3 separate regions of the Homo sapiens genome follow, and regions 2 and 3 are each linked to region 1. The links come from fine-mapping of genetic effects on gene expression. A gene starts in region 1. Each other region holds a variant in brackets. All regions are shown on one strand. Distances are from middle to middle. Region 1 holds the start of PDHA1 (pyruvate dehydrogenase E1 subunit alpha 1). Region 2 overlaps ADGRG2 (adhesion G protein-coupled receptor G2). Region 3 has its middle 57 kb from the start of PDHA1.

Evidence for each region.
Region 2: its variant is fine-mapped to the expression of PDHA1 in esophagus muscle (GTEx, PIP above 0.99).
Region 3: its variant is fine-mapped to the expression of PDHA1 in skeletal muscle (GTEx, PIP 0.93).

What each region holds. Positions count from the first base shown.
Region 1 is chrX:19,337,767-19,348,455 of GRCh38, forward strand. PDHA1 (pyruvate dehydrogenase E1 subunit alpha 1) reads left to right here and starts at 6,161. Exons shown (of 11, transcript NM_000284.4): 1 at 6,161-6,328. The coding sequence starts at 6,272.
Region 2 is chrX:19,096,426-19,107,114 of GRCh38, forward strand. All of the region lies in intron 1 of ADGRG2 (adhesion G protein-coupled receptor G2), which reads right to left. Among named protein-coding and RNA genes, the nearest start is that of ADGRG2, 21 kb to the right of the region's middle. RefSeq lists an enhancer at 10,568-10,689. The variant C/A (reference allele first, on the strand shown) is at 6,104.
Region 3 is chrX:19,281,753-19,292,441 of GRCh38, forward strand. No RefSeq gene overlaps it. Among named protein-coding and RNA genes, the nearest start is that of PDHA1, 57 kb to the right of the region's middle. RefSeq lists enhancers at 9,246-9,746, 9,747-10,247. The variant G/A (reference allele first, on the strand shown) is at 4,199.

The DNA.
Region 1 (10,689 bases):
CCTATTAAAATATGTATTTTTCCACATATCTCCATTGGATAATAGAAAGACATGATGGGCCGAGTGCAGTGGATCATGCCTTTGATTTCAGCACTTTGTGAGGTTGAGGTGGGAGGATCGCTTGAGCCCAGGAGTTCGAGACTTGCCTGGGCAACATAGCGAGACCCTGTCTCTATTTTAAAAATCATATAGAAAGATATGCTCATACTCACTGTGGTTCACCTATCTTAGATTCAGGAACCCCGTGCTCTCCTGAACACACTATGGCACCTCCTTCCATTAATTTCCTTTAGGATCCTGTCATGAGAGGGCACAGCTCATCTTCCATATTTACAAAATGCAAAGCTGACATGAACATCCTTCTCTGGCTTCCCATTATTCTTAGGAAAAGTGTCTAAATCTTTAATGAGGTCTAACAGGACCAGGACAATCTATTGCCAACCTCGTGCTCAGCGCTCAGACCACAGCTAGAAGGTCTCCTCCTCAGTGCTGAGGTCTGAATGTGCCCCCTAAAATTCATCTACTGAAACTTAACCTCCAATGTGAGGGTATCAGGAAGCGGGGCCTTTGGGAGGTGATTAGATGATGAGGATGGAGCTCTGCCCCACTCCCCCAGGCCCCTTTGAATGGAATTAGCACCCTGATGGAAGAGGTTGAAGGGAACACCCCAGGCAATTTTTTGCCCTTCCACTCTTCTGCCATGTGAGGACTCAGCCAGAAGGCCCTCACCAGACACTGAATGCCCTGACCGTGGACTTCCCAACAGCCAGAACCATAATAAATCAATGTCTGGGTTTGTTTGTTTGGTTGGTTTTTATTGTTGTTGTTGTTTGTTGTTTTTTTTTTTTGAGACAGGGTCTTGCTTTGCCACACAGGCTGGAGTGCAGTGACACAATCGTGGCTCACTGCAGCTTCGACCTCCCGGGTTCAAGCCATCCTCCCATCTCAGCCTCCCAAGTAGCTGGGACTACAGGCACCTGCCACTATGCCCAGATAATTTTTGTCTTTTTTGTAGAGATGGGGTTTCACCACGTTTGCTAGGTTGGTCTCAAATTCCTGGGCTCAAGCAATCCACCTGCCTCAGCCTCGGAAAGTGCTAAGATTACAGGTATGAGCCATCAAGCCCAATCAGTGTTTGTTGTTTATAAGTTACCCAGTCTCACGTATTTTGTTAAAGCCGCCCAAACATTACAAATCCCCCAACAGCTTGATCTAGTACTTCCTCAGGGGTTACAACACAGGGATATTAAAATTATATGGTTCCTTTTTTATTTACTGCTGGAAATTATTCTATAAAGAACTATTCCTCATCAACTGTTTGTTGACATTGAAATTCAGTCTATGTAAGAAAGACAGGATAAATCCTTGGTTCTTTCCCTTTGCCAGATTTCAGAATAATTACTATTGGGCTGGTCTTTGCTTCTAGGTATTTCCAGTGGAGAGAGTTAAGATACACACACACATACACACACACACACACACACACACACATCGTTTTTGCTTTGAGACACAGTCTCATTCTGTTGCTCAGGCTAGAGTGCACTGGCACGATGATGGCTCACTGCAGCCTCCACTTCCCAGGCACAGGTGATCCTCCTACCTTGGCCTCCCTAGTAGCTAGGACTGCTGGTATGCGCCACCATGGCCGGCTAATTTTTTATATCGTGTAGAGACAGGGTCTTACCATGTTGCCCAGGCTGGTCTTGAACTCCTGAGCTCAAGTGATCTGCCCACCTTGGCCTCCTAAAGTACTGGGATTACAAGTGTGAGCTACCGAGCCTAGCCAAGATGTATGTATGTGTGTGTGTGTGTGTGTGTGTGTGTATCTTGAGGGGGGGAAATAATCATGAGTTTATACTGATATTTCCAATTCAAATTCAGGACCTCTTGGCTTTGACCTGTTGAATTTTACATTTGTGTCTCTGTTTTTTATACTGAAAATCTTGGTTCCCAATGGCATTAACATAATTATATATTTACTTTATCAGTGTGGGTATGTGCAGTCTTAAATAATAACACCTGACAAATGAGAACAATTTAAGATTTTTTTCTGTAGAGATGGGGTCTCCCTATGTTGCCTAGGCTGGTCTCAAACTCCCGGGTTCAAATGATCCTCCCACCTCAGCCTCCCAAAGTGCTAGGATTACAGGTGTGAGCCTCGCCTTAAGATTTTTTTTTCCAGTTCCTTTTGTCTTTAGGCTATACCCCACCAGGCATATGCAGTCACATTGCTGTGGTGTGAAATAACTTGAAATCATTCTCTGCGGGGTTATGCTGACAACTTGGTATGTTATTAAATTGGTTTGTTATATTTCATTTCCATTGTTATGTCATTGTGTTTTATGGTCGTGTAAAAACATTTATATGGTTCCAAAGTTAAAATGACCCCTAGCCATAATCCTTTCACCAGCTGCTGCTTAGTACCTCAAAGACATTTGCAAAGATTTGTTGACTTTTATGACACATGTATATGATTGTCCTACTCTAATTCATCTGCTGGGGGATGGGTGTTTCTTACTGGAAAACCGGAGACATGTCAAGGAGCATGATTTGCCTTAAAGCTCAGCTTGATCGAATACTTGTAGGGTGATTCGCTAACGAAAGGTAAAAAGGCATATTTCAGGGTCTCTAATCAAAATTGCCCTGCTTCACCCAGATACGTTTTTTTTGTTTTGTTTTTTAGAGAGATGGGGTCTCGCCCTGTCACCCAGGCCGCCATGCAGCGATGCCGCCATAGCTTACTGCAGCCTCAAACTCCTAGGCTCAAGCAATCCTCCCTCGTCAGCATCCCTAGTAGCTGGGACTACAGGCATGCAACACCATACCAGACTAATTATTTTATTTTTTGTACAGACGAGTATCACTTTGTGGCCCAGGCTGGCCTCAAACTCCTGGCCTCAAGTGATCCTCCTGCCTTGGTCTCCCAAAGTGCTGGGATTACAATTTCCCCCAAGATTAACGAGCCCTCCTTTCTTAAGACTTTCTCTTCCCGCCTTTTGCAAATCTTTCTTTCTCTCCGGCCTCCTCTCCTGATACAAGAGTCTTTTGTGAATGTTCTAGCGCGTTACTATAGCCTATAGTTATTATAGCCTATAGTTAATGACTATAACATTACTATAACGTTACTATAGCCTATAGTTAATGACTATTAACCACAATCATCACCTGTCACCACTTGACACAGCATCTCACAGTGTCCCTCACCTTCAAAGTTGCTTCCAACTCTGCTTTCAAATATCTGAAAACAGCTGGGCGCGGTGGCTCACACCTGTAATCCCAGCACTTTGGGAGGCCAAGGTGGGCAGATCACCTGAGGTCAGGAGTTTGAGACCAGCCTGGCCAACATGGTGAAACCCCGTCTCTACTAAAAAAATACAAAATTAGTCGGGCATGGTGGTGCTCGCCCGTTTTCCCAGCTACTCGGGAGGCTGAATGAGGAGTATCACTTGAACCTGGGAGTCAGATGTTGCAGTGAGCCAAGATGTCACCACTGTACTCCATCCTGGGCAACAGAGTGAGAATCTGTCTCAAAAAAAAAAAAAAAAAAAAGAGGCCGGGCGCAGTGTCTCATGCCTATAATCCCAGCACTTTGGGAGGCTGAGACGGGCGGATCACGAGGTCAGGAGATCAAGACCATACTGTCTAACATGGTGAAACCCTGTCTCTACGAAAAATACAAAAAAAATTAACCGGGCGTGGTGGCGGGCACCTGTAGTCCCAGCTACTCGGGAGGCTGAGGCAGGAGAATGGCGTGAACCTGGGAGGCGGAGCTTGCAGTGAGTTGAAATTGCACCACTACACTCCAGCCTGGGCGACAGAGCGAGACTCTGTCTCAAAAAAATAAATAAATAAAATATATATATATACACGTATGTGTGTATATATATGTATATATATGAAGAACAAGAAGTGCAGAGAAAATATCCTAGTCATTGAAAAATTGGTTACTTTGTTTCTGCACTGCAAAGTTACTTTAAACTTTGTAATGAATCTAGTGGAGAGATCATTTGAGATGAGGCAAATGTCCTGTTTCTCATCATACATTTACCCACTAATTTTAGCCTGTATTGATGATAATTCTCACCTGCAACAGTTACTGTGGTCTTTGCCAAATGGTGATTTTCTTTTTCTATTTTCATCATTCCTTCTATATTAATTAATTGGAATTCTACTGTAAGGAAAAGTTGTTCCTTCTAACCCATTGATTTGTTCAATCATGTATTTAAGTAGGACCTATATTTTACTTGTTCCTTGCTATATCTTCAGTGTGTAGTACAGTGTCTGACACAAAATCGGTGCTCAATAATAGGTGTTGGATGAATGAGCAAATGAATGAATGAATTCATATTCATATGGCCTACAGAGTTCCCGTACATGCACAACCAATATCACCACCCCGTGGAGATGACTCCCAAATTAATATTTTTAGCAAATGTTCCAGACTTACAACTCCAACTTCCCGGGGGACATCTTCAGATAGCTGTGCCACTGCCACCACCAGGTCAACATGTCCCAAACCATTCAGACCAGCTTTTTCTCCTGAGCTGGACATCTGGCCTCCAACCTTTTCATTCTCTTTTACCTTTCATATTCTATCAGCAGCAGCAGCTGCTGAAATCATACCATGCAAGTTTCTCACGTCCATCTCTGCCTTTTAATGGCGCCCTCTCACTCCTTTAAGAAGTTTTCTTCCACTGCAACACGATCTCTCAGTCCAGAGTCTGGCCCAGTGCCCAAATTATTTCTCTAGCTATGCTGAGAGCTGGTCATGCTTTGAACTTCTGCTTTGAATACTTTCAGTGACACTGGGAGAGAATTATCTCATTGGACCATTGTCATTGTTAGAAAATTCATTGTTATGCTGAAATGAAATGATTTTATTCACACACACACACACACACACACAAAATAGCTCTTCCTCCTGGAACATGACTGGCCTGAAAATGTGTGAAGACATATCCAATCCTCTCTGGTTTTACTGTTCATCCAATTTTCTGTTCTCCTCCTGGCAGGAGGATTATATTTCACCTTGTGGAACTCAGACATGGTCGGGTAACTAGCTCTGGTCCGTGAAAATTGAGAGGAAGTGACATGTGTCACTTCTGGGCAGAAGCTTTGAGAGCCGGTTTAAATGATCCCTTTTCTCTTCATCCATGAGACAAGCTAAGTTCCAGAGAGAGGGTGCCACGCTGTGAGGGACCTGTGTTACGAGTACGATGGCTCGCGTCACTTCAAATTCTTGAAATCACTGAAATTTGGAGGTCAGTTGTTACATCATAACCCAGCCAATTCTAGTTAGCCTGTTTTCTTCCTAACTTCTTTAATCGTTCTTCATAAGTCACAATCGCAGCCCCTCACCGTTCTGACCACTGTCCCCTGGATTCCACTCAGTTTACTCATTATCCCCCTTAAAATGTGGAGCCCAAATCTGAACCCGGAACCCCAGGTGCAATCCCACTAGGACACAACACAATGGGTTCCTGAGCCCTTTGATCCTCTGAATAGAGCCCCTTGTTGCTTTGGTGTTTTGTCTCTGTGTGTGCTTTTATCATCGGCTGAGCCACGCTGTTAACTCGCAGTGAGCCTGTGAACCAATAACTAGAGAAAAAAGATTTTTCCCATTGTCCTCTCGACATATATTGGGAAACAAATTTTTTGATCCGCGTTCAAGTAGACAGGGCAGAACTGTCCAACTGCTACGTGATCTTTTAAAGACAAAGTTAGTGGCAGACCATTTACAGAAACCAGATGTTCTGTCTTTTGGCTCTGAGCATGCTGCTAATCTTCATCATCTAGTGTACTGAACGAGATGTACTGAACGAGGGCTGCAGAGCTGCAGCACCGGCAGGAGTAGGCGCTCGGTAGGACGGGGCCTGCACAACCTCCCCGGTAGTCAGCAGAGCGGAATCTAGGAAGGCTCCTTTCCCGCGGCGCCCTGGAGGCGGGGGCCCCACCTTCCCACGCAGGCGCTATCAAGCCCCGCCTCCTCACCCGCCCGCGGCGTGGCGTCGGAAAGAGCCCTCAGCCCCTCCCTCTCTGGCGCTGATACCCAATGGGCAGCCTCAGGCCTTTAGCGGGGGCGGGGCACCCCCTGGACGCCGTTCTGGTTGGCCCGCGGCCCGGCGCAGCGCATGACGTTATTACGACTCTGTCACGCCGCGGTGCGACTGAGGCGTGGCGTCTGCTGGGGCACCTGAAGGAGACTTGGGGGCACCCGCGTCGTGCCTCCTGGGTTGTGAGGAGTCGCCGCTGCCGCCACTGCCTGTGCTTCATGAGGAAGATGCTCGCCGCCGTCTCCCGCGTGCTGTCTGGCGCTTCTCAGAAGCCGGTGAGACCTCCCGGGCGGGCCGGGATGGGGCGCGAGTGGGGCTGAGGCGGGGCCGGAGGGCAGGGCGGGCCAGGCCGGGCCACCCAGAGCGGGGTGGAAGGCGCCAGGGGAGCCGGGGAGCCTTTACTTCGCCTCCGCGCCCTGCATTCCGTTCCTGGCCTCGGGAGAAGCGGCACGGACCGGGATCACGCCAAGGTCCGTGTGAACTTCCCCCTTCTCGACACCCACCTCCCGCCCCCGGGCCCAGCTGTGCGCCAGGCGAAGTCGGTGTGCTCAAGAGGTGCCTGTTGGGTTACAGGACACGGAAAGGGTGGCCTCGGCCTCCTTCGAGTCTCCAATTGACCCCACTCATTTCGGATCTTCTAACTTAATTTCTCTTGACCGAGAGGCTTTGTAATAGCGTAGAATCTGGAGACAGGGTGGCTTCGTTCAAACAGCACCCTCACCATTGACTAGCCCTGTGACCTTGAGCAAGTTTTTAAACGTCCCGGGGACCCGGTTTCCTAAAATGTTTGCTCGAAGTGGAGTTAATCTCTAAATGGAGATAAGAGTTATCTCTGAAATGTTATCAGTTAACTCTAAAATGGAGATAATAAGAGTCCCCACCTCTTGGGGTTGTCTTGAGGATTCAACGAGTGACACGTGTGGAAACGATTCCAAATAGCACCTGGCACATAATCGATAACATGTGTGTTGAATAGTGTTATTTATTGAGTCTCCAGTTCGGTATACATTTCTTGAACACCTGTGCTCAGTTCTGAGGCGGGTTCACAGAAGGTCAGCCTCTTCAGAAACAAACTTCCTCCTCTTCCCTCTCCCTCAACATCTGAGCTTTTCTTGGCAGTGAGTTCAGGAGCGCCGAAGCAGAACTCAGAGGACGCTGCCCTCCCCTCCCCTTACCTACACATTCTTAGGGTACAAGTAGCTAAAGCAAAGAGCAACGATGCTTGAGGGGTGGGGGGTAGAGTTTAGCACTATTTCATGGCCTCAGCATTTAGAGGTGCCTAACACCTGAGCTAGCATTCTGACCCCCCTAGGCACAGTGAGGTCGTGTTAATTGGTGTAACTGCAGGCCTCGGGATTCTGGTATTTCCCCCAGGACTTGATACCGCTCTACTTAGTACAGGCAGAGATTGTCAAAAGGTAAGAGGTATGCCCCTCTAGGAATCCTGTTGCCTAAAATAATGACAAAACTGCCGGGTGCGGTGGCTCAGGCCTGTAATCCCAGCATTTTGGGAGGCTGAGGCAGGTGGATCACCTGAGGTCAGAAGTTCGAGATCAGCCTGGCCAACATGGTGAAACCCCGTCTCTACTAAAAATACAAAATTAGCCGGTCGTGGTGGCGGGCTCCTGTAATCCCAGCTACTCGGGAGGCTGAGGCGGGAGAATAGCCTGAACCCGGGAGGCGGAGTTTGCAGTGAGCGGAGATCGTGCCATTGCACTACGGCCTGGGCGACAAGAGCAAGACTCCGTATTTTAAAAAAAAAAAAAAAAAAAAAAAAAAAAAAGCGTTCCCTTTAGGGATATCTGTGGGTAGAGGGCTGTACCGGTAGTTACGGGCTCAGAAACATCCTTCCTTTAGGCACCTGATGTAGGTTTTCTTCTTCTTCTGCAAGTCAGGTTCATTGTTTCCTGTATCAGTTTGCAGGGTCCCCCCCCCCCCGCCACCTTACAGTAGGAAGAAAATTGAGTTCCAGATATGAAGTCACCTTTGAAAGTGCCCAGGTATCTTTCCACTTGGTGGTGTAAACTCTTCAGATAATTAGAAGTTTTCTGTGTCACTCAACTTGTCATGGACTAATTAGGAACCATTCCTGAAGCTTTTAAGGATAGAACTAAAAGTTTCACTTTTATTTTTTTAAAGGGTGGAATAATAAACTAACGTGTTGACTCTTTGTATTTTGTAATTCTTCATACTTATGGATGTCTTTTTACTTAACTATAAGTAACAAAATAGATCAACGTTTTAGTTTTTTATATTATACATGTAAAAAGACATTTTGCATATAAGCCTTTCACAAAAATCTTGACAGTAAACAATAAGCAGTGGCTCACCCAAATTAGGCAGACTTACTGCACTAGACTCCTACCATCTGTGTGATACTCCATGAAGGGAGGGAGAAGGGGAGGGAGAAGGGTAGGCAGCTGGTCTGATGGCTGTGACACAAGATAATCCCCTTAACCTCCCAAGACGCTGTGTGTTTTTTCCTTTTTTATTCTCCCTGGTTTACTTTCGTTTTGTTTGAGACAGGGTCTCTGTGTCACCCAGGCTGGAGTGCAGTAGCAGGACAGCTCACTGCAGCCTTAGCCTGCTGGGCTCAAGCGATCCTCCTGCCTTAGCCTCCTGAGTAGCTGGGAACACAGGCATGTGCCACCACCACACCCAGCCAATTAAAAAAATTTTTTTTTTACTAGAGACATGGTCTTGCTACGTTGCCCAGTCTGGTCTCCATCTCCAGGCTCAAGCAGTCCTCCCACCTCGGCCTCCCAAAGTGCTGGGATTACTCTCACTCTCTTAAAACCAGGCAGGTAGGGAGATTTATCTCAGGCTTAAAGATTGCCATTGTCTCATCAAAGAGTGTTTGGTGTGAAACTTTGAAATGAATATCAAGATTGTGTTTTTATTTTTGAATAAGGTTTATAGTTTTCATAGTTCTTATTTCATGGAAGAAGATTGAATGCATTTAAAATGTTATTTTATTGTTTGCATTTCTGTATGGCTCCTTTTGTGAGATCTTTACTAGCAATGTTTTGGCTTTATAAGTGGTAGGTAAGAGTTTTAATTTACACTGTTAGAATCTGGAATTTTTGAAACGTTTTTCCTCTTTCACATGAATGGTTCCTATGTATTTAGGAAGTTAAAGTTTTACTTTTTTTTAATTAATTTTTTTTTTTAGGCTGGAATGCAGTGGCACAGTCATAGCTCACTGTAGCCTCAGGTGTGTGCCACCATACCTGACTAATTTTTTAATATTTATTTTTGTAGAGATGAGAGTCTCATGTTGCCCAGGCTGGCTTTGAACTCCTGGCTTCAAGTGGTCCTCCCACCCTGGCCTCCCAAAGTGCTGGGGATTATAGGTGTGAGCCATCATGCCCGGCCTAGTTTTTATTTTTTAAAATTTGAGTGGGTTGTTCGTGGTCTCTGTCAGAGAGGAATCCCATTTAACAGAGAATCTTTTTATGGCTCTCCAGAGAAAATGAATGGTAAACTTATCTTTTCAACAAGCTCTCACTCAGAAATGATACACACACACTTCTGATAGGACTTTTAGCTTCTTTAACTTTGTTCCTTTCACTCATATCAGTGGTTCTTATTTTTGAGATACACAGTAATGAAGCCATGGGAGAAAGTATCTAAGTAGCTTTCTGGCAGTCCTAATCTTTGCAGGCGCAAGATTACAGGCGCATGCCACAGCACTGGGCCCCTTCTTGCTCTTTATTGTATAGCATTATCCTGCCTCATTGTTTCAACTCTAGGATTGAGAAAGAAGTTACCTTTTCTCTGTTACTGTCGCCTGGCTGGTTTGGACTCCTGCCTTCCAAAAACTGCAGTTTCTGTAGTTGTATTTGGAAATTTATTTCACAATACAATAAATTTCTGGCCCCACAAAATATTTATTAACTGCCAAGAATAACACATCTGTTTGATTGCTAAATATAACCATTGATTTGCTGTTTCACCTTCTCTCAGCTTTACTTCTTCCCAAATTCCTAAATTTCCTTCACTTTTTCTGAGATACATTAGTGGACTGTCTCTGCCTGTAAGTTAACTGAAACACTGATTCCTAGTATTTCAGTTGTTTTCCTCCAGCACTGTCATTGTCTGTGTTTGTTGGCTTTGTCCAATAATGGTCTATTGAGGGGTGAAGATATACGTAATTAGCTTTCTGCCTATTGGCTTGTACACTCCAGGGTATACTTGGCAGATCAGTCTTAACTCTTCTCACCAAGATCAGTCCAGTGCTGGATTAGGTAAGGTATGAACACATCAGATGTGCTTTTTATGGAGAAATCATGTTGGTTTACACGTCAGTGTGTGAGAATGTGGCAGAAGGGAGCTAAAATAGTATGATAATACTACTGGATAAATTTTGTGGTCTAACCTAAACCTTAGCCATTACATAGAATACTTTTGCTGTGAGCAGGTTTGCTCAGTTGTAAAACTGGAAAGGAATCATTTCTCACCCCCCGCCTCCAAGCTTTTTACCTCCAAACAGTGACAGCCACCCAAACATCAAGAGAACAGTGTTTCAGAGAACATTTCTACTGGGGCTTCAGGAGGAGCCTGTCCAAGATTTAGGCTGTTCAAATTATAAATTATAAAACAGCTGGCTCAAGCCCATTGTGTTTAAGTCAGAGAG
Region 2 (10,689 bases), 240 kb before region 1:
AAAAATCAGTATTGCAGTTAGCAATAGGTTGAAAACTACCATTTGATAGAAAAATGATTCTGCCTGGATAAAAATGTAATGTGCTCATGCAAGTAAGAACAAGTGTACAATATCTCAAAAGATCTTTTAAAACTCCCTTGCCATAAATATTACAAGCTGCTTTTGGTTATCCTATAGTACTAATGCCACATTATTGACAACATTGTCAAAGCCTTTTCACTATTACAGAAAAAAGGGAGGTGTAGGGAGGTGGTGAGGTATTTTCAGTGAGTCATGATGATAACAGCCAGTGTTTAATTGTAGCCTATCACAAGTCATGGGATAAAGTAGTTGCTGATATTTACTGCCTCCATACCTGGGATTCTTTACCCATCAAATGGGGATAAACTTCTTATTTATGTCCTAAAATTCTTATGAGTAATGAGTCAGTCAGTACAGGGAAAGTGCTTAGCAGACTTTGGCTTAGAGCACATGCTCAAAAATATTAGCTGTGAGTGTTAGTGCCATCGTTAACTGCTTCCGGGCACCAGGCACTCTGCAAATTGCTCCACATACATCTCTGTGGCTGACACTTCATGTGCTTTTCTAGAAGAGAAGAGGTCTGGCATGGGCCTGCTGCCCTTCCTGCATGTTTTCCTCCTTGGCCATGCCACTCCACCCAGCCCCTCTCTGCCTCCCCTCCTTATGCTCTTCTTTCCGCTCCCACTTGATCACAGCTGTCCCAGGAATGGAGCTAATATCACACCTGACCTCTTCGTGTGAAGGTCCTATTGAGCTTCCTCTCTCAAAAGGTATCTCTTCTTTGGCCAGGCGTTGTGGCTTACGCCTGTAATCTCAGCACTTTGGGAGGCCAAGGCGGGTGGATCACTTGAGGTCAGGAGTTCGAGACCAGCCTGGCCAACATGGCAAAACCCCATCTCTACTAAAATACAAAAATTAGCCAGGCGTGGTAGCAGGTGCCTGTAATCCCAGCTACTGGGGAGGCTGAGGCAGGAGAATCGCTTCAATCCGGGAGGTGGAGGTTGAAGTGAACCGAGATAGCGCCACTGCACTTTAGCCTGAGCAACAGGGTGAGACTCCGTCTCAAAAAAAACAAAGGCATCTGTTCTTTAAACCAACTCGGAGGACTGAATTAATGACTTATCCTTTGTTACAGGAATCCGGGGCCTGGGGGAGAAAGTGTGAATGCTATTTGAGGGACCAAGACCACATTTTGGAGGTTCATTCTCTCGCAGCTGAGGACCTTATACTGGGTCATCTCCTCCCCACCCCGGCCCCGGTGGCAGGACACCCTCACTGCATCGAGGGTGAGCGTACTCTGCTGTGCTCAGGCACCTTCCCATTCAACAAATATTTATTAAGTAAATACCATGTGCTAGGCACTACGGGAGGTGCTAGGAGTGCAGTGGTGAACAAGACACACACAACTGTGCCCTTTTGGGTTGTACGTGCCAGTGCGGCATTCAAACAAATAAAAACGCAAATGGATCAATCTGTGAAACACTGACAGTTTTAAAGAGAGCTATAAAGCAAACACATAAGAAGATGAATTATATCAATGATGCAAAAAGCAACTTGCTCAATATTACAAAGAAAGTTAGCAATTCAAAGGAATGTCACACATGATAATTTCTATTAAGATGCTCATTTTGGCAGGCGCCAGGCCAATGCTTTGCCACCGTGCCAGAAAGCTAACTGCAAGTGAGGGAACATGCCTTTTCACTCAATTTCTCTTCTATGTTTTTTTTTTCCTTTACTTCTAGAGATGGGACTAGGCTAGACCAGTGTGTTTATATTTCCTCCTAGGCCAGCTTCAGATGAAAATGTGTAGGAAAAATCTCCTTTTAAAGGAATCAAAATAATACTTAGAGAACATAGTAAACTGTCATTTGCTTGTAAGCTGTTTAGCTAAAGTTATATGGTTAGATTAGAAAATGTACTCCCTCTAGAGGTGGGGTAAAATTGCTGTATTCTTGATACACAGCAAAATGCCAACTGGAGGGGGGACCATGGGTGGGCTGAATTTTTTACTGGGTTTTTCTGTAATTTCTGAAAATGTAATGATAAAGATACATTTTTTTAAAACATAAAAATAAATATTCTCACAGGCATAGCAGATTTTGTAGGATTTTTTTTTTATCCAAGTAACAGCAAAACAGAACCACATCAGTAGTAGCTCAGTAAAACCTGTATGTTAGTAATAACTATAAAGCAAACACATAAAGCAGAGAAGTGGATATGAAGTGTGTTGGAGGTGGGGGAGGTAGCAATTTTAGAGAGGTGTCCTGTGACACCATCATGAGAAGATGACATCTGAGCAAAGCTGCTAAGGGAGGTCAGGGAGTGAGCCAGAAGGCACTGCCACACAGAAGATGAATCCTCAATCACCTATTAACCCAGATAAGCAAAATTGCTCCAGACAGAAATCAGTTCAGACTTAATGGGACAAAGCAATGGGTCAGAAGAAAATTAAGTGAGGCCAGGTACAGTAGCTCATGCCTATAATCCCAGCACTTTGGGAGGCCAAGGCAGGTAGATCACTTGAGGTCAGGAGTTCGAGACCAGCCTGGCTAACATGGTGAAACCCCATCTCTACTAAAATACAAAAATTAGCCAGGCGTGGTAGCAGGCGCCTGTAATCCCAGCTTCTCTGGAGGGTAAGGCAGGAGAACTGCTTGAACCCAGGAGGTGGAGGTTGCAGTGAGCTGAGATCGCGCCACTGCACTCCAGCCTGGGCGATAGAGCGAGACTCCATCTAAAAAAGTTAAAAAAAAAAAAATTAAGTGATGGGCTGGCATGGCCTTGACAAGAAACAACAGCCAAAGTCTAGCAAATGCTTCCTACAGCATGGATTGAACTGCTTTATTTGTATTAACTTGCTTTATTTGTATTAACTCACTTAATCTCTGCAACGACCCTGGTTAGGGCATGCACATAATTTAATGTCCAAATGGGGGTATGTGAGAGTAAAATGGGGCACTATTGATTAATGTGGAAAAAACAGGCATAAATCAGAGCTGCCTTGGCAAAACCAAGATACAGCACCACCTGACCTAGAAGGCATACAATTATGACTGCTTTACAGACAAGGAAACTGAGGCAGGGCACAGAGAGGTTAAATAACTTGCCTGATGTCACAAAGGTAAGTGGCAGAACAAGCATTTGAACTTGGGCTGCTGAGCTTCTGAGCCCACATTCGTGACACCTACACGTGATTGCCTATCTGTGTTTCATGTGCTTAGAAGCTCGTCACGCTAAAAACCTGGGTTGTATTTGTCACTGGAAAGTAGAAAACGCACCAGCTTTTAGAGTTGAACACCAGCATTAGGCCAGGCACAGTGGCTGATGCCTGTAATCCCAACATTTTGGGAGCCTGAGCTGAAAGGATCCCTTGAACCCAGGGATTTGAGACCAGCCTGGGCAACATAGAGAAACCCCATCTCTACAAAAAATTCAAAAATTAGCTGGGCATGGTTGTGTATGCCTGTGGTTCCAGCTACTTGGGAGGCTGAGGTGGGAGGATCACTTGAGCCCAGGAGGTTGAGGCTGCAGTGAGCCATGATCATGCCACTGCATCCAGCCTGGACAACAGAGCAAGACCCTGTCTCAAAAAAACACCAAAAAACACGACCACTTTACAAGGTCAGCAACCCTGGACAACCATAATAACCCCTTCAAGCCTCAGTTGAGTCACCTGTAAAACAAAGCTACTGAGACCTACCTCATAACAAACACTACTTCAACACTCAGATGACATCGTGTTCCTGACAACGCTTTAGAAGCTGAAAAGCACAACATGGGTAGAATCCTCAAAAGTTATCATAGGTAAAAATCTGCATTTCCTCTGCAAAGGGTCAAATAGTAAATATTTTCTGTAAAAGGCCAAATATGAACTATTTTAGGCTTTGCAGCCAAAATGGTCTCCATTGCAATGACTGAACTCTGCTGTTGCAATGCAAAAGCAGCCATGGAAAACATGTAAGTGAATGAGCGTGACTCTGTTCCAATAAACCTTCATTTACAGAAACAGATGGAGGGCCTTGGGCCATGGTTTGCCAACCCCTGGCCTAGAAAAATGCTATATAAAATTGCAACCCCTCACGGCTTCCTGTGCCTCTTTCCCAAGATTCATTTTCCTCCACAGACACCACCTAACACCATCTAACTGACCGTGTATTTTACTCAAATACCGTCTGCTTCACTCACTGGAAGATAAGCTTCTTTGCCGAAGGCAGAAGTTTTGTCTGCTTGGTTTACTGTTGAGTCCCCAGTGCCTGCAAAAGTGCCTGGCACATACTAGGGATGTTATAAACATATGTGAAAAGAATGCATGGCTGAATGAATGGAGAGGTTTTGAAAGAGTTGGACATACTATTGGGAAAGGAAGGCAAATCTATGCCAAGTAAAAAAGGAAACAGAAAGATAACGACATCTGAAAACGGGAAGAAAAGCGATGGCAAATGAAAGCAAACTCAGCTTTGCGATTCCTCGCGGGCAAAGGGTAAAAGGATTATTTGCAAAACCAATTTTGTGAGTTGTGAACATATGGAAGAACTAGAGCTTTATAAAACAATTTCCAAAGTTAAGTGGTTAAAATCTAAAGGAATTATTGGTTGGATTAAGATTTAGTTATGAGAATAGCTTGAGGTGTGTTTCAAATCAACTAATCATGAGATTGTGTGTGTGTGTGTGTGTGTGTGTGTGTGTGTGTGTGTGTGTAATTCCTGCTCTTCCCCCACCCTGGCAACTGTGAGTTCAGTTGTTCTCTGGGAGTGGTTTGTGGATAAAGCAAAGGAAGAAAAATGAGCTAGAGCTACATGTAGCCAAGAGAATCAATCTCACAAAAATAGTATTAAATGAGATGAAAGTTGCAAAATGTGAAAGTAAAAAACACACCAATCTTATAAAGCTTAAAAGGCATGCGAGTAGCATTCTCTCTTGCTTAAGGACATATTCCTATGTAGGAAAATATAAAGAAATGTATTAGAAGGATAGCCAGGCACGGTGGCTCACGCCTGTAATCCCAGCACTTTGGGAGGCCGAGGTGGGCGAATCACTTGAGTCTAGGAGTTCGAGACCAGTCTGGGCAACATGGTGAAACTCTTTCTCTACAAAAAATACAAAAATTAGCCGACCCTAGTGGTGTGCACCTGTAGTCTCAGCTACTTGGGAGGCTGAGATGGGAGGATCATTTGAGCCTAGGAGGCCAAGGCTGCAGTGAGCTGGGATGGAGCTACTGCACTCCAGCCTGGGCCATAGAGTGAGACGCAATCTCAAAAAAAAAAAGAAATGTATGAGAAAGATAAACAACAGTTTCAGGATAGTGCTTACCTTTATGCACTTTTGAAAACTGATGCAGGGCCAAAGTTAAGCACCTCCAGCTGTTACCCCATTAATGGTACAGGTTCAAAGGGGATGGAATTCCACATGCAGCACATACTGAACCAGCAGTGACCCACCCTCAACAGGTCCCCAAGAGCAAAGGCCATACAGGAGTCAGACCCACGTGCCTGATTTCCTGACCCAGTGTTCTGATTGCCTGAGCTAATTATCCACAAGCAGCTGTTCCCAGCAATAACAAGCCATAAGAAGTGGCTCGCTTTACTTCAGGTACCATTTGGATGTTAGTAGGGGAGGAAGATGAAGTATTGCGGTGAAAATATTGCCGGGTGTGGTGGCTCACACCTGTAATCCCAGCACTTTGGGAGGCCAAGGCAGGCAGATCACTTGAGCCCAGGAGTTCAAGACCAAAGTGCTGGGATTACAGGTGTGAGCCACCACGCCCGGCCTGGACTCCCTCTTTAAAAGGCAATGTCTTTCACATCACTCATAGATGCAAAAAAGCAAGATGAAGGACTCATTTCTCTTATTTTAAGGGGTATTTTGCAGGAACTGATATGAACATAACTCTGAGGACTAGGACAGGCCTTGGCAAAGTTAACAAGCCCACCTCACTTGAAGAAAATCAATTTCCTCTTTAGTACTCTTTGTGTCTTCTAGGTGGGGGCCATTCCCAACTTGTAGGTGCCCAGTGACCTCATACTTTTTCACTGGCTCTCAGGAGAAGGCCTCGCATGGAGGCCCATCGACCAGGTTCTGTGCT[C/A]ATTTAAATTATAACACTTTAAACCAAGGAAATGAATCTCTAATTGTGGAATTTCAGATTTCAGCCAGATCAACAGATGAGATACTGGTGGGGGTGGGGAGATGGGGGTGGAGTCATGCACAGTTATTGCTGTGGACTTGTGTGTCCCTCCTGCCAAATTCATATTTTGAAGCCCTAACCCCCAGGGTAACCTGTCTCTCCCTCTCCCTCTCCCTCCCCGCTTCCCCCACCTCTCTCTGCCAACTGAGGACACAGTGAGAAGGCAGCTGTCTATAAACCCAGAAGAGGGAACTCACCAGAACCTGACCATGCCAGCATCTTGATCTTGGACTTCTCGGCCTCCAGAATTAAGAGAAATAAATTTCTGTTGTTTAGACCACTCAATCTATGGTATTTTGTTCTGGCAGCCCAAGTTGACTAAGAAAGTTACAGGGTAGTGTCAGAGGCATTTGAGCCAGAGTGACTCCATCTTGAATAGGGACTGGGTAAAATAAGGCTGAGACCTGTTGGGCTGCATTCACAGGAGGTTAGGCATTCTTAGTCACAGGATGAGACAGGAGGTCGGCACAAGATACAGGTCACAAAGACCCTGCTGATAAAACAGGATGCGGTAAAGAGGCCAGCCAAAATGCACCAAAAACCAAGATGACGACAAAAATGACCTCTGGTTGTCCTCACTGCTCATTATACGCTAATTATAATGCATTAGCATGCTAAAAACACTCCCACCAGCGCCATGACGGTTTACAAATGCCATGGCAACATCAGGAAGTTACCCTTTACAGTGTAAAAAGGGGAGGAACTCTCAGTTCCGGGAATTCCCTGCCCCATCCCAGAAAACTCACGAATAATCCACCTCTTGTTTAGCATATAATCAAGAAATAACTCTAAGTATTCTCAGTCGAGCAGCCCATGCCACTGCTCTGCCTACGGAGCAAACATTCTTTATTCCTTTACTTTCTTAATAAACTTGATTTCACTTTACTCTATGGACTTGCTCCTAATTCTTTCTTGTATGAGGTCCAAGAACCCTCTTTTGGGGTCTGGATCGGGACCTCTTTTAGTAACAGTAGCAGTCACCTAGCCATCCACCCTTATTGTTTTAATAGATGTTTTAACATTAAAGCTAGCCCTGTTGATACCACGTGTACTCTCAAAATACCAAATCCAAAGGACTAAGTGTCTAATTAGGACCCCCAAGATGCCCAAACAGAGAAACAGGAGTCTGGCCTGGGGGCAGCACAGCCTGGCAGAGGTATGCAAAACTGTGAGACATCCAGGACAGTGTGCCCAGTGAGGCCACCCTCCCAAACATCTCTGCCTGCTGTGGGTTCCAAAGATGAGACAAACCATAGAATGGGGAATTTCAAATACAAGGTCTTGAGGGGAAAAGGCTGGGTCCTATCACACGTCTGAACATATAGAGGGGCCCAGGCAGCCCTAAAATCCCCTAAAATGCACTAAGAGGCATAGATTGTGCCAAGGTTCAGATCCACTTCAGTCTGGGGAAGAAGGCAGGAGGAGGAGAAAGCTGAGGACATGGCTAAGAGGAGCAGTGACCATCGATGCAAAGCTTCGGAAACGGATGTAGGTAGGCCCTTGAAACTGAGTGTCAGGGGCTCTGTTCTGTAAAGGTCTGAGAAGGACTCCTCATCCCAAGAGGCTATGCAGAGAACCCACCACAGAGAAACTCAGTGAGGGAGGCCTGTGGAAGGGAGTTGGCTGCAGCCAGGATGTGGTTTGTAGGAGCCCCCGGGATGTGATCAAGCTTCTGAGGCAGAACTCAGAGATACACCCTCTGGGTACAGGTCAAAAAGACCTGAACTAGCTTGACTGGGGTGTCCAGAAAATCAACTCTGTTGACCAGATCCCAAAACAGCCCGGGAACAGAGAAGCATTCTCTCCATTATCAGGCTTATTTCCAGCCATCTGACTGTTTGGTGTCACGCAGACAAAATATCTAGATACTGGTGAGATGCCCCTCAGAAGAAACCCCATGGGGCTCCCCCTTTTTTTATAATAGGATTTTATTAAAATTAACAAAAGGAATTCCTGACTGTTGACCAGTTTTGCCTTAGTTGGGTTCCTTCAGAAGGTAACTCTGCTGGGTGTGGTGGCTCATGCCTGTAATCCCAACATTTTGGGAGACCAAGGTGGGTGGATCACTTGAGTGAGGCCAGGAGTTGAAGACCAGCCTGGTCAACATGGTGAAACCCCGTCTCTACTAAAAATACAAAAATTAGCTGGGGGTGGTGGCGGGTGCCTGTAGTCCCAGCTACTTGGGAGGCTGAGGGAGCAGAATCGCTTGAACCCGAGAGGTGGAGGTTGCAGTGAGCCAAGATCACACCACTGCACTCTCGTCTAGGTGATAGAGCGAGACTCTGTCTCAAAAAAAAAAAAAAAAAAAAAAAAAGTAACTCCAAGGCTGGGCGTGGTGGCTCATGCCTGTAATCCCAGCACATTAGGAGGCCGAAGTAGGCAGATTGCTTGAGGCCAGGAGTTCGAGACCAGCCTGGCCAACATAGTGAAACCCCGTCTCTACTAAAAATACAAAAATTATGTGTTTTGTATTTCTTCTTCCTTCTTTCTTTTTCTGCTGCTGCTGCTTCTTCGAGATGGAGTCTTCCCATATTGCCTAGGCTGGTCTTGAACTCCTGGGCTCAAGCAATCCTTCTGCCTCAGCCTGAGTGTTATTCTCTTTGACTCATCCATGAAAGTGGATCCAATGTGTCTATGTATATTTTTTAAATTAAACTTTTATTGTAGTACAAATTATACACAAGGCCATCAGCAGTAGAAAGGATAAACCATGGTAGTCATGCAGTGGAATATTATTTGGCAGTGACAATCATCCAACTATAATTAGTTGCTATTTAGGCCATGTTAAATAGGCCTTTGCAGGGACATGGATGAAGCTGGAAACCATCATTCTCAGCAAACTAACACAAGAACAGAAAACCAAACACCACATGTTCTCACTCATAAGTGGGAGTTGAACAATGAGAACACATGGACACAGGGAGGGGAACATCACACACGGGGGCCTGTAGGGGGATGGGCGGCTAGGGGAGGAAAAGCACTAGAAGAAATACCTAATGTAGGTGATGAGTTGATGGGTGCAGCAAACCACCACGGCACGTGTATACCTATGTAACAAACCTGCACGTTCTGCACATGTACCCCAGAACTTAAAGTATAATAAAAAAAATTTTTTTAAATACAAAAATTAGCTGAAATACCCCGTCTCTACTAAAAATACAAAAATTAGCATGGTGGCGTGCACCTGTAATTCCAGCTACTGGGTTGGGAGAATCACTTGAACCTGGGAGGCGGAGGTTGCAGTGAGCCAAGATCGCACCACTGCACTCCAGTCTAAGCGACAGAGCGAGACTCTGTCTCAAAAAAAAAAAAAAAAAAAAAAAGAAGAAGAAGAAGAAGGTAACTCTTTGGCACATATTCGAGATAAGTAGTTTATCTGGGCTGTGACCCCAGGAAACACAGATAGAATGGACACGTGAGTTGGGGCAGGAAGGCAGCCAATAGATGGCGTTATCAAGCCAGTCACCACTGGGGGCAATGGGAGTTTAGTCCTTCTGGGGAATTCTGGGAGCCAGTGTAGAACACCGGTCTGAATTATCCCACTTGAGGGTATGGATCCACTGACTTGCATCAGGCATTGGTTGAAGGCTGCTCCTGGGGTGGGGTGGGAGCTGTTAATTCCCTGGCACTTCCAACCTGCAGCATGGATGTGTAAAGAGGGCCCCCACAGAGAAATGTGCAGCTCGTGGCTGGAAGGTGACTGGTGTGTACTATAATGGTGGGGCCAGGGATGTTGAAACAGACACCTAGTTGCTCTGGAATGAATGAGGAAGTGTGCGATAGTGAAGCCAGGAGAAAAAAGAGTGGCTTAATGCCTGCCCCACCCCACTCCTTTCTCCATGTCAGTATCTGGGATAGTGTGTGTTTGTGTGTGTGTGTGTGTGTGTTTCGGTTTGGCGTGTGTTTGAGGTTAGTGGTTTTTCTTCAGGTGTTATGAGATATTTGAGGAGAGTCCAGGTGAGGGAGATTTGAAAGAAGTTGCTATTCCAGGTTAAAAAAAGAGCACTGCGGCTGGGTGCAGTGGCTCACGCCTGTAATCCCAGCACTTTGGGAGGCCGAGGTGGGCAGATCGCTTGAGGCCAGGAGTTCGAGACCAGCCTGGGCAACATGGTGAAACCCCGTCTCTACTAAAAATACAAAAATTAGCTGGGCGGTGGTGGCGGGCACCTACAATCCCAGCTACTCGGGAGGCTGAGGCATGAGAATCACTTGAACCCGGGAGGTGGAGGTTGCAGTGAGCCGAGATCATGCCACTGCACTCCAGCCTGGGTGACAGAGTGAGACTCTGTCTCAAAAAAAAAAGAAGAGCCCTGGGCTTTGTCTGCTGCTTTAATGCAGGCTACACACAACCTGGTTCTGCCGGCAGTGCTGAGAGGACAAGCCCAGAGGGGTACTTGGGAGAGCTGTTTATCATCCATCAGTGGGCAACGGGCAAATGCTCCATATAATCCCCAGGAACATGGAGGCAGCTATGTTCTAAAGCTTCG
Region 3 (10,689 bases), 56 kb before region 1:
GGGAATCCATGCAGCTAGAGCAAGGCAATGAGGAGGGTCTGTATGTACTGACATGTAAAACTCTCTAGGATGCATTATCAAACAAAGGGAAAGATGCAGAACATTGTATATAGAGGCTACCTTTGTTTGTACGTGTGTAACAACTCTGGAGGGATATACATAACAGTGAAAGATGATAACTATAGGAGGGCAGGGAGTGGAAAATAAGTGAGAGATGGAAGTGGGAAGGAGACTTCTGCTATATAACCTTTATATATAATACACATATATAATATATACATACAAAATATGTAAATTATATAATTTTATATATAAATATAAAACTATATAATTATGTATATTCTATATAAAATTATATATTATATGATAGATTATATATTTATAATATATTAAATTACATATTTTATATAGTGTATTTAAATGTTTGAAACAAGTAGATATAATATTAATTCAAAAAGTTAATTTTTTTTTTTTTTGAGACAGAGTCTCGCTCTGTCTCCCAGGCTAGAGTGCAGTGGCACTATCTCAGCTCATTGTAACCTCTGCCTCCTGGGTTCAAGTGATTCTTGTGCCTCAGCCTCCTGAGTAGCTGGGATTACAGGCATGTGCTACCATGCCCAGCTAATAAAAAACTTAAATTCTCAAAGGAAAAAATATATATACACAAAAATGTTTACCGATGGAACCATAAGTCTGTTGGTGTTTGGGGATGGAGAAGAGACAAATGACTTCACACTCAGGTGAACAGGACCAAGTCTGTGAAAATAAAATGACACAACTCTAATAACCAAAAAGTCACTGGAAGGTTCTTGGATAACACTGAAATACCATTAAGAGCCCTTGATACCTTGTGGCAAAGGGGGAATCAACAGTCATTGATTGATAAAAGTTACTAGGAAAATTGTTTCCTTTTTATACCCCATTAAAGTTGAGTCTGCTCACTAAACCTTTGCAATTGTGAAGCGTATCAAAGGATACAGAGTTGTGTCTGCATTTCCTATTTAGTTAAACTTGAAGTTTCATTATTCTTTAATTGAATGATACATCGCCAGAAGTTAAGTAATTTCTCTTAGATATCAGTAGAAAGCTTATTTACTGATAGACATTAGCATCTTAGTAACATTTATGATTGATGAGTCAATTCCACTAACATTTCCTTGCTTGGAAAATTCTATGATCTGGTCCAAGAAATTTCTCAATCTCTACCTCTTTTAATTCTATTATATGTAACATGTCAGGCAATTTTCTTGTGTAGACATTTTTCATTTTAAAACTGCATCATGTCGTCTTTTAAAAATTTTCAGTGACAATCATGAAACCAAATTTAAGTTAAAATTCAACCATGTCTGATATTACAAATGCAAATACCACCAACATAATGTTTAAATGGTCAGATCATTTCTATACATGGCATAGACAATCACAATCACATCACAACTTGCTGCTTTGCCTAAAGGCTGGCAAATTTTCTTAAACATGTATTGCCATTTGGGAATTGTTAAAATATTTTAATGCCTCATATTATTGAGAAGATATGTTCAAGACTTGTTAAAGTGAATTTACGTAATTTTCATCAGTACCTTTAGGATATAGTTTAGGGAATAGGTAGTAAATTTCAAAGTTTGTAGGTGAATTGACTGAATAACATCATTTAAGATTGTGTTTAGCTGCATATGGCCTAACTGTGGTGATATGTCCAAATAGGGGTATATTTCTCACATCGGTGGAATTCAGAGGTTGGCAATCTGATCTGCAAGCAATGTCCTAGGATCCTTCCACTTTGAACTCCACCATCCTTAGAGTGTGGTTTTCCATACTGTGCTTGTTACCCAGTGAATATGTGATGGTGACTCCATCACCAGCCTTATGTCTGCATTCCAGCAAGAAAGCATCAACAAGACAGGGAGGTGGGGGTAGCAGCCATATCAGAATATCAGTCACATTCCCAGAAACCCCTTGTTGACATCTGTTCAGGTCCCATCAGCTACAATGTGTCACCTGGCCTTACTTCACTGCAAGGGAATCTGGAAGGGTATTTTTAGCTAGGCACGCTGCCTTCCAGAACAGAAGTCTGTGTCATCAAAGAGAAAATGGGCATTGAGTATAGGTATCTAGCAGTATCTTCCCTGTCACCAAGAGGTTAAGACAAGTTAAGGACTTGTCTCCTTACTGTCAGTTAAATGCCCCACGATTCAGAGGTGGGGGCGCTGAGGAGAAAAATGAAAAAGAGCATATTCACGCAACAATATATTTCATCCAAAAATCCCACTGTTTTTAGATACAAAATTAGCTCCTGTGTGGTTATTAAAGAAGATTTAGGTTATGTAATCCAGAATCCTGGTGTAACCCTGGACCACATGTGATTGTTAGGATCACCATGAACTAGACCTTGCTCCACATGGCTATTCTTGTTTCCAGTCACATTGTCTTCTCACGTTCACCACAGAATGGATGGCAAGACAGAGCTGGTCATTCGCTGCCCCACAAGAATATTTCTATAAAGGTTTCTAGTGGAGGCCATGAACAATCATCCTTGGAAGAGAGTCTTGACTGGAAATAGCTGTCATTGGGTATACCTTGTAGAGAATCAAGGACCCAGAATGGGTCTTTTGGTCCTGTAACTAAAGAACACAGACCTTAGCATGGCCTGTATCAGATCAACTGAGTTCAGTTTTCTGGACTCCTCAAGATTATCATTCAAAAAAATGATTTTATATGTGATTTACAATGATTAGACCAAGAAAGCAGACTGAACCCACATGCCAGCTTTCCCTTCTACCCTCAAAGCTGTTGAAATGACAGAAAAGATATACACACACAGTTTTGAAAATAATTAATGCATGTCAGTGCTGGAAAATAGGAATCTCTGAAAGAGGGAAAATGAGATTGAATAGAAAGCAAGAAAAAATTAGAGATTTTAGAAACTAAAATTTTGATTGTTGACATTTTCTGCCGTGCAAGTCCTAGTTATTTATAAGAAGTTTTAAGAGAGGGGCCGGGCGCGGTGGCTCACACCTGTAATCCCAGCACTTTGGGAGGCTGAGGTGGGTGGATCACCTGAGGTCGGGAGTTCGAGACCCCAGCCTGGCCAACGTGGTGAAAGCCCGTCTTACTAGAAATACAAAAATTAGCTGGGCGTGGTGATGCATGCCTGTAATCCCAGCTACTTGGGTTGCTGAGGCAGGAGAATCGCTTGAACCGGGGAGGCAGAGGTTGCAGTGAGCCAAGATTATGCCACCGCACTCCAGCCTGGGTGACAGAGTGAGACTCTGTCTCAAAAAAATAAAACCCCAAAACAAAACAAAAACAAGTTTTAAGAGAGGAAATAAAGTGTCTTAAGCCCTGTTTTCTAAGCAGTTAGCACCTTCCAAATTAGTAGTTTAAAAATCATGGAGTATAGCTCTTTAAAGATGAAGATAAATCATAGTAGGGTAGAATCACTACCAAAGTTTTGGATTTGGAAAGGACTTTGGCCATTCTGAAAAAATGAGGCAAGTCTAACCAATTTGCTAGCCCAGCACAAAAGAGGATGTTGCTTCTATAGTGTGATATGGTTTGGCTCTGTGTCCCCACCCAAATCTCATCTCAAATTGTAATCCCCATGTGTCAAGGGAGGGACCTGGTGGGAGGTGATTGGATCATGGGGCAGATTCCCCCATGATGTTCTTAGGATAGTGAGGGAATTCTCACAAGATCTCATGGTTTTAAAAGTGGCAGTTTTTCCTGCACCCTCTCGCTCTTCTGCTGCCCTGTAAGATGTGCCTTGCTTCCTCTTCGCCTTCTGCCATGATTATAAGTTTCCTGAGGCCTCGTCAGTCATTCAGAACTGTGAGTCAATTAAACCTCTTTTTCTTTATAAGTTACGCAGTCTCAGGTAATCTTTATAGCAGCATGAGAATGGACTAATACATAGTGCCTGAATGATTTGCTAGCAATAAAAAAAATCCATCATATTTCATGTGGTCCAAACAAGGCTTAAGTTGTGACAGGTGCCAAAACTACACTGGAAGCCTTGACAGAACCAGCTGACTCTTCTATACAGTTTCCAGCCTCTAGGCTTTTCAAGTCTTAGCTGGAAATACTAGAAACAAAGTCTTTCCCAGTCTTTTGAAGTTTGTCTAGCAAAATCACTTTGTGATTTTGTGCTTAAAAAAAAAAAGAAGAAGCATGAATCTGATTCTGTAAAACAAATTAGTGT[G/A]TAATGAAATGATTTAAAATTTACTACATTCATTATCTGCTCATAGTATCTGGTGTGATTACATTAAAACTCCATTAGAGAAATATGGAATGGTCCAGATTCAGAATTATCTGATTTCTTAATGAGGAACAATAGGGCATTTAGTTGGTTAAGAAACAACAGTTCCTTTGAATTACAAATTAACTCAATATTAGTGTTGTGGTTTTAATGCATTTAATATTTCATCACAGTAGGAAGTCTACTAGGCTTGAGACAGGACATCTCAATTCTAATTCTAGGTCTGTTACCACATGCCTCATGACTTTGAACAAAGCAGTTAACCTCTCTGAGCTTTGGTTTCCTCATCTGGAATATGAAAGGATTGGACTAAAATATTCTCCAAGGTTTTCTTCCTAACTCTGAAATACGGTGGTTCCATTTCTTTTTTTCCCCCCAGGGCCCTTTGATTCCCACACCTCCTTCCTCTATTCCAGGCTTCTAGGTTACTCTTGCCTCTACTTCCCCCACTGCCCAAGGTTATTCTTTGTGACATCTGCCATCCTAGGCAGTAGCACCTATCCCAGGCTTCTTCCTCCTGGACACCAATGAAAACTTCCTCTCATGTGTCCCATTTCCTCAGAGCCATTCTACACGTGGATTTCCTTCTCTGAATAACAGTTCCTTCACCTAAGGGAGTGAAGTGACGCTGAGGATAGGAGCTACTGTGGCTAGGGCAGGGTTGGGGAAAGGTCAAGTTCTGCTGTCTGTTCCATGCTGCTGGGGCCTGTTGCGTGAGAATCGAGGCTTGCGTACTTGCCTTTAATGTGGGTCTGTAAGGAGGGTCCTGGGGGGTTGAGAGACTGAGGGAGGGAGATGCCCACCTGGTTTTGAATAAAAGCAAAGGGAAAGCCTTTGCCCAACATGCATAAACGTCAGCCTATTCAGGCTGGGCATGGTGGCTCACGCCTGTAATCCCAGCACTTTGGGGGGCTGAAGTGGGCAGATCACTTGAGGTCAGGAGTTCGAGAGCGGCCTGGACAATGTGGTGAAACCCCGTCTCTACTAAAAATATGAAAATTAGCCAGGCAGGTTGGCACGCGCCTGTAATCCTAGCCACTCAGGAGGCTGAGGCACGAAAATCACTTGAACCTGGGAGGCGGAGATTGCAGAGGTTGCAGTGAGCCAACATGGCGCCACTGCACTCCAGCCTGGGTGACAGTGCGAGACCCTGTCTCAAAAAAAAAAAAAGTCTATTCAGTCATTTAAATTTTAATTTAAACTTACGCAAATGAGGTAGAGTACATGTAATTGCATCTGTGTACATAATAACCATTATGTACAGTGTTGTAATAATTTATATCTATACTTAAACATAAGTGGTTTTGTTTTGATTTTTGCCTATGGGGATCTCACCCCAAACCCTTAGATGTTTGTCTAATTCTCTCTCGGGTTTTTTCTGCCCATCATGGGCTTTGAAGGAAGTTTGCTGGGCAGTAGAGACACCAAGGCACTAAGAGTAAAAATTTCTTCATGGCCGGGTGCGGTGGCTCACACCTGTAATCCCAGCACTTTGGGAGGCCGAGGGAGGCAGATCACGAGGTCAAGAGATCAAGACCATCCTGGTCAACATGGTGAAACCCCGTCTCTACTAAAAAATACAAAAATTAGCTGGGTGTGGTGGCACGTGCCTGTAGTCCCAGCTACTTGGGAGGCCGAGGTAGGAGAATCGCTTGAACCTGGGGGGCGGAGGTTGCAGTAAGCCCAGATCGCACCACTGCATTCCAGCCTGGCAACAGAGCAAGACTCCATCTAAAAAAAAAAAAAAAATTAATTAATTCACAATCCCCTATATTGCCTGTCCTCCCAATTCTATGAGTCAGTTGGCATATTTATCTTATAACCCTGCATGTCACAATACCCACCCTGCCTGTGACCCAAACACAAGGTCACAAAGTGCCTGCGTGACATTTACAAGCTCTCCTGAACCCCAAATCTTCTCTCCAAAAACCAAGTTCCCCCGAGCATCTCCCTTCTGGATGGATTGGCATGGTTGTAGAGTATATTTATGCACATGTGTGTTTACCCTGCAGGCTAAGTGATTGCAGCTTCTCTTTTAACACGCTTACATGAGAAATGTCTCCTGCATATAGCCTGAAACTTTATTTTTCACTTTAACCAAAACATTATCTCTCACCTATCAATATCTTGGCCCACGTGGTGTTGTGCCACGGCAGAAATACTGAGTATGAGAAAACCAAAAGGCAAGGAAATTCTGTGTCGCCTCCCTTGGTATTCCACCTCCCCACCCCCACCCTCGTGTCTAGACATTGCAGCAGGCTTAACAGTTACCACCCTTTTTTTTTTTCCACATTTCATTAATTGGACAAGTCAAACAATCGCTAATCTGGCAATTCTGTGCAAGTTAAAACACTGGAACATGTTACCCCGCATTGCCTGCCAAATCACACTAAAATTCGGATCCACGAAGGTGCTGAAAGACTTTTTCAAAAGTTTGTCCTGCCTGGCTTCCTGCTTTTTCGGCCGACTTTGAAAAGGGATCAGAGGAAGCTGTTCAAGAAGCAAATCAACAACAACAGCATAAACAGCAAAACAGCATAAAAAATAACACTTCTTTGTTATTTTTCACAATTAACTGAAATCCAGAGTTTGGTGGCAGGGGAGAAAAAAAGGGAGTGGGACAGAGCGTCCCCACACCCTGAGATAATTGCATCAGGGTGGAAAAATGACCACCACACCCAGGCGGTCAGATTTCTGGGGTCACTTAATCACGCTCTGCACACCTGTGCTCAGAAGGCAGTGCAGCTGCAGACACAAATACTGTTAGATGAAGAAGCCAATGATCCTGTTCCTTGCTAGATTTAGCTGCTTCCAAATGTCCAAGATGAGCTCAAACAATCTTTGAAAAGTGAAGTGAAGCAAAAGCACAAAAATGGTCTCTGCAGTGTGCTCTGCCAGAGTCAGTCTCGGGGCCAAAACTTCTCTTCCACACTGCTTCAACCTGTGCTCGGCCTTCCACTAGCCCACAGGACCTCAGTTTCCCATGGCCATGATGTTCTTCAGATGCTCTGTGCATGGGGCGAGCTGTATAAATGAGGGTCTCCAGCAGACCCCAGAAGTACCGTCAGATTGAGTCCCTCTAAATATCATCAACTCTGTCTGCACCTCTTCCTCCTGGGTTTCCTTGCTTATAGTATTCCCAGTAAATGTTACTAAGAGGTGAGAATGTGAACACTTGCAGGAAGCAGAACAGCAATCATTCTTTCATCACAGATTTCCATGGAAATCCAGGAAATGAAACAGAAAGGAAGTTGATCAAAGAACTGCTTTAGGTTTGTAGTCTGATTTTCATGAAAGTTCGTTCAGGAGACCATACTAGACAATCTCAAAGACCAATTTAGGCCTGAAATGCATCTTCTTTTTTTTTTCCCTACACATTAGGATTTGGGTCTGGATTGGGAACAGGATGTAATATACCAATACAGGCCATGAGCCTGGCTGCTGAACTTCCTGAGTTCAAAAGACGTGGTTGGTTGCCACATCCCGCCATGGATTTGGTCTATTTTATAGCTAGAGGCAAAGATCCAGTGTTTGAGCAGAAATCCTGGGATGGTTCTGAGATTGCTGTTGATGATCCCAAACCTACCCTGGAAGTCTTCAGAAGGACAAATCTATCCATCTCTCTAGGGCACTTAGAAGAGGACCTGGGGTTGGCCTGGAGCCTCTGAAAGCAATTACCAGCAAAGCCGATTCCCTCGTGGGAATCCACTTCAGCTTTTACACTCATCTAGAGCTAGCACAGATGATAAAGCAGGTTTGCCGTCAGTGCCCTGTATCCCCTGTTAGAGCCCACAGACCCCTTATTGTTCTTTCCCTTTCTTCCTCCCAGGTACTTAATGCACTCATGAGGCCCCTGCATGGTCCAGCGTATTCCACCAGCTAGATGAACCCTGGTGCCTCCCAGCCACTGTCACACCTCACTTGGATCCTGCAGCAGTGTCTGGTCTTGGACCTCCTACAATCTGTTTTCTATCCTAGAGCACAAATCTTATCAGGTTATAGTCTTTCCTAAAACCCTTCCTTGGCTTTCCATTAGCATTAGGTTGGACGGCACGCTTCTTTCCATGGTGGGCTTGTCATTTAACATCTGGCCTGTGCTGCTCTCTCCAGCCTCACCTCTTGCTACTTTCCTACGCACATGCAATGCTCTCTCCAGCCTCACCTCTTGCTACTTTCCTACGCACATGCAATGCTCTCTGCAGAATTTTCTTCAGTTCCTTTACTGCACCATGCCTTCTGGCCTTCATATCTGCTATTCCCTCTCCCAGAATACTCTTTCCTTCCTTCTTTGCCCAGGTCATCATTGTCATGGGGTCACTCCTCATCTTTCTCCACCATGAAGCCCCCTAATTTCCCTAGGCTGGTTTCTGTTCTCTTACAGCCACCTGTACGTCTCCAGTCACACCTCCTTGTCACTGCTTCGTTGGTTGCCTGTCATCCCTGACTAGACAGAAGGCTCCACGGATGCAGGAACTTTACCTGTTTTGTTTGCCATCAATCCGTCCAGGCACCTGGATGTATTCTTACTGACATGCTTAGCAGATTTAGCAGAAACTCACCGTCACCCTTGGCCTGATGGATCTTGAAAAATAACAATACTATCTAATATTTCCACTTCGGGGTCTACAACATTACTTCCTTTGAGACATCATGTTGAGAGGTAGGCAGATGAGCTCCACTTTAATATACCAGTGCCCTGGGGCTCAGGGCGAAAGCCTCAAGCGTCATTGTCTATTCACTCAGTGGCTACTTCTGTCTACAATACAAAAGGCCTCATGTTAGTTTCTAAGGATACAAAGATGAAAAAAGAATGATCTTTGTACCTGAGAATCTCAAAGTCTAGACGGAAACAAAGTGTGAGAAGTTGTAATGGAGGTATGAACAAAATGTGGTGGAAACAGAAAAGCTACTGACTCGACTTGGGGAAGGTGGAAAGGTCACAGACAGTCCCTCCTGTCTTCCTGCAAGCTTCCACTGATCCTTTGAGACTAACTTAACCTGTTACCCGATCCTTGTCTTTTCTCCTCTCTATCCCTTTTTGAGGCTCCCTCAGTTCTACATAGAACAAACTGAACCGTGGTCCCATAGCACACTTCTTTTATAACACCTATCAAGTTCCTCGAGTCTAGGAAATTTCTGTAAGTCAGGAAAAGCGGAAGTCGGGCCCACCAGATGGCTGCTACATGTGGGCTGAGGAGCCTCCAGAGAGAGAACTTGATCCCAGACACACTGAGCCCAGTGGGAAACCTTAGTCATCAGGCAGGAGAGGCAATCCACAAGCTGAAGGATGAGAAGCGATTCTGAGGACAGCAGGATGTCTGCCACTGAGATTTTCATACCTCTAAACCTCCAATGCAAACTCACAGCTGGAGTGTGAGCTGGAGGGCTATGAATGAAAGCCGAAAGAGCTGTTTCACTAAGAACCTTTAAGAAATTAAGATATTGGCTGCATGCTTTGGGAGCCCTCTAACAGACTGAGACATAAAGGAGAGATGGGCATCCTCCCCCTTTGTCCACTGCAGACAACTTCTCTGGTACTACAGGGACCCCAATGAGCCTGGAATTGCCCCTGGCCAAGCAGCAGTGACACCCAGCCAAGACTTCGATGCCATAAGTAGAAAGACAAGCACCCAGTGGGACGAGATAGATTCCTAGGGTAGTACTTACCAAATTGTGGGGCTTGATGCATTAGTTAGTGGGTCATGAAAATAAATTGGTGGCTCATGACCAGCAGTTTTTCATAGACTAGAATAGGATTAAAAAATCAGAGCGCCTCACAAGTAGTGTTTTATGGAAGTAGGCATATATGTATATGCAAGTATGTGTGCATGTGTGAGTATACATGTATAAATGTACTGGGTCATTATGTAAAATATATCCCTTCCTGTGGACCATGGTCAAAATCACAAAGGGATTGCCTGTGGAACAGTAGTATATGATAGAAATGGTAGTTAACTTAAATCCTGTATTTAAGTTCATAAATATTCCCAGATATAACCAAGTAGGGTTTGCAAGAGCTAGCTGCACGATCTACTATAGTAGCCACTAGCACATGTGGCTATTTAAATTAATTAACTAAAAGTAACAATTCCATTCCTTAGTAGTACCGGCCACATTTCAAATGCTCAAAAGAGACTTGTGGCACAAAAGAGGCTATGCTCAAAAGAGTCTAGTACATTTTTTGCATATTCCTTATTGGATAGCACAGATATAGAACATTTCCAACATCCAGAAAGTTCTATTGGACAGCTCTAGGCTACAGGTTCCATATCAGCAGGAGCGGGGAAGAGTTAGTAAAGTATAGGCACTGACTGTTCTGGCTTCTGCCTATACCCACAGACAGATGAGCCCTGGGGATCCTATAGAAATGATGTACTATCTACTTTCCCACAACCTATTTCCAGCCTGTCCAACTGGATTGTGAGGCCCTTGAA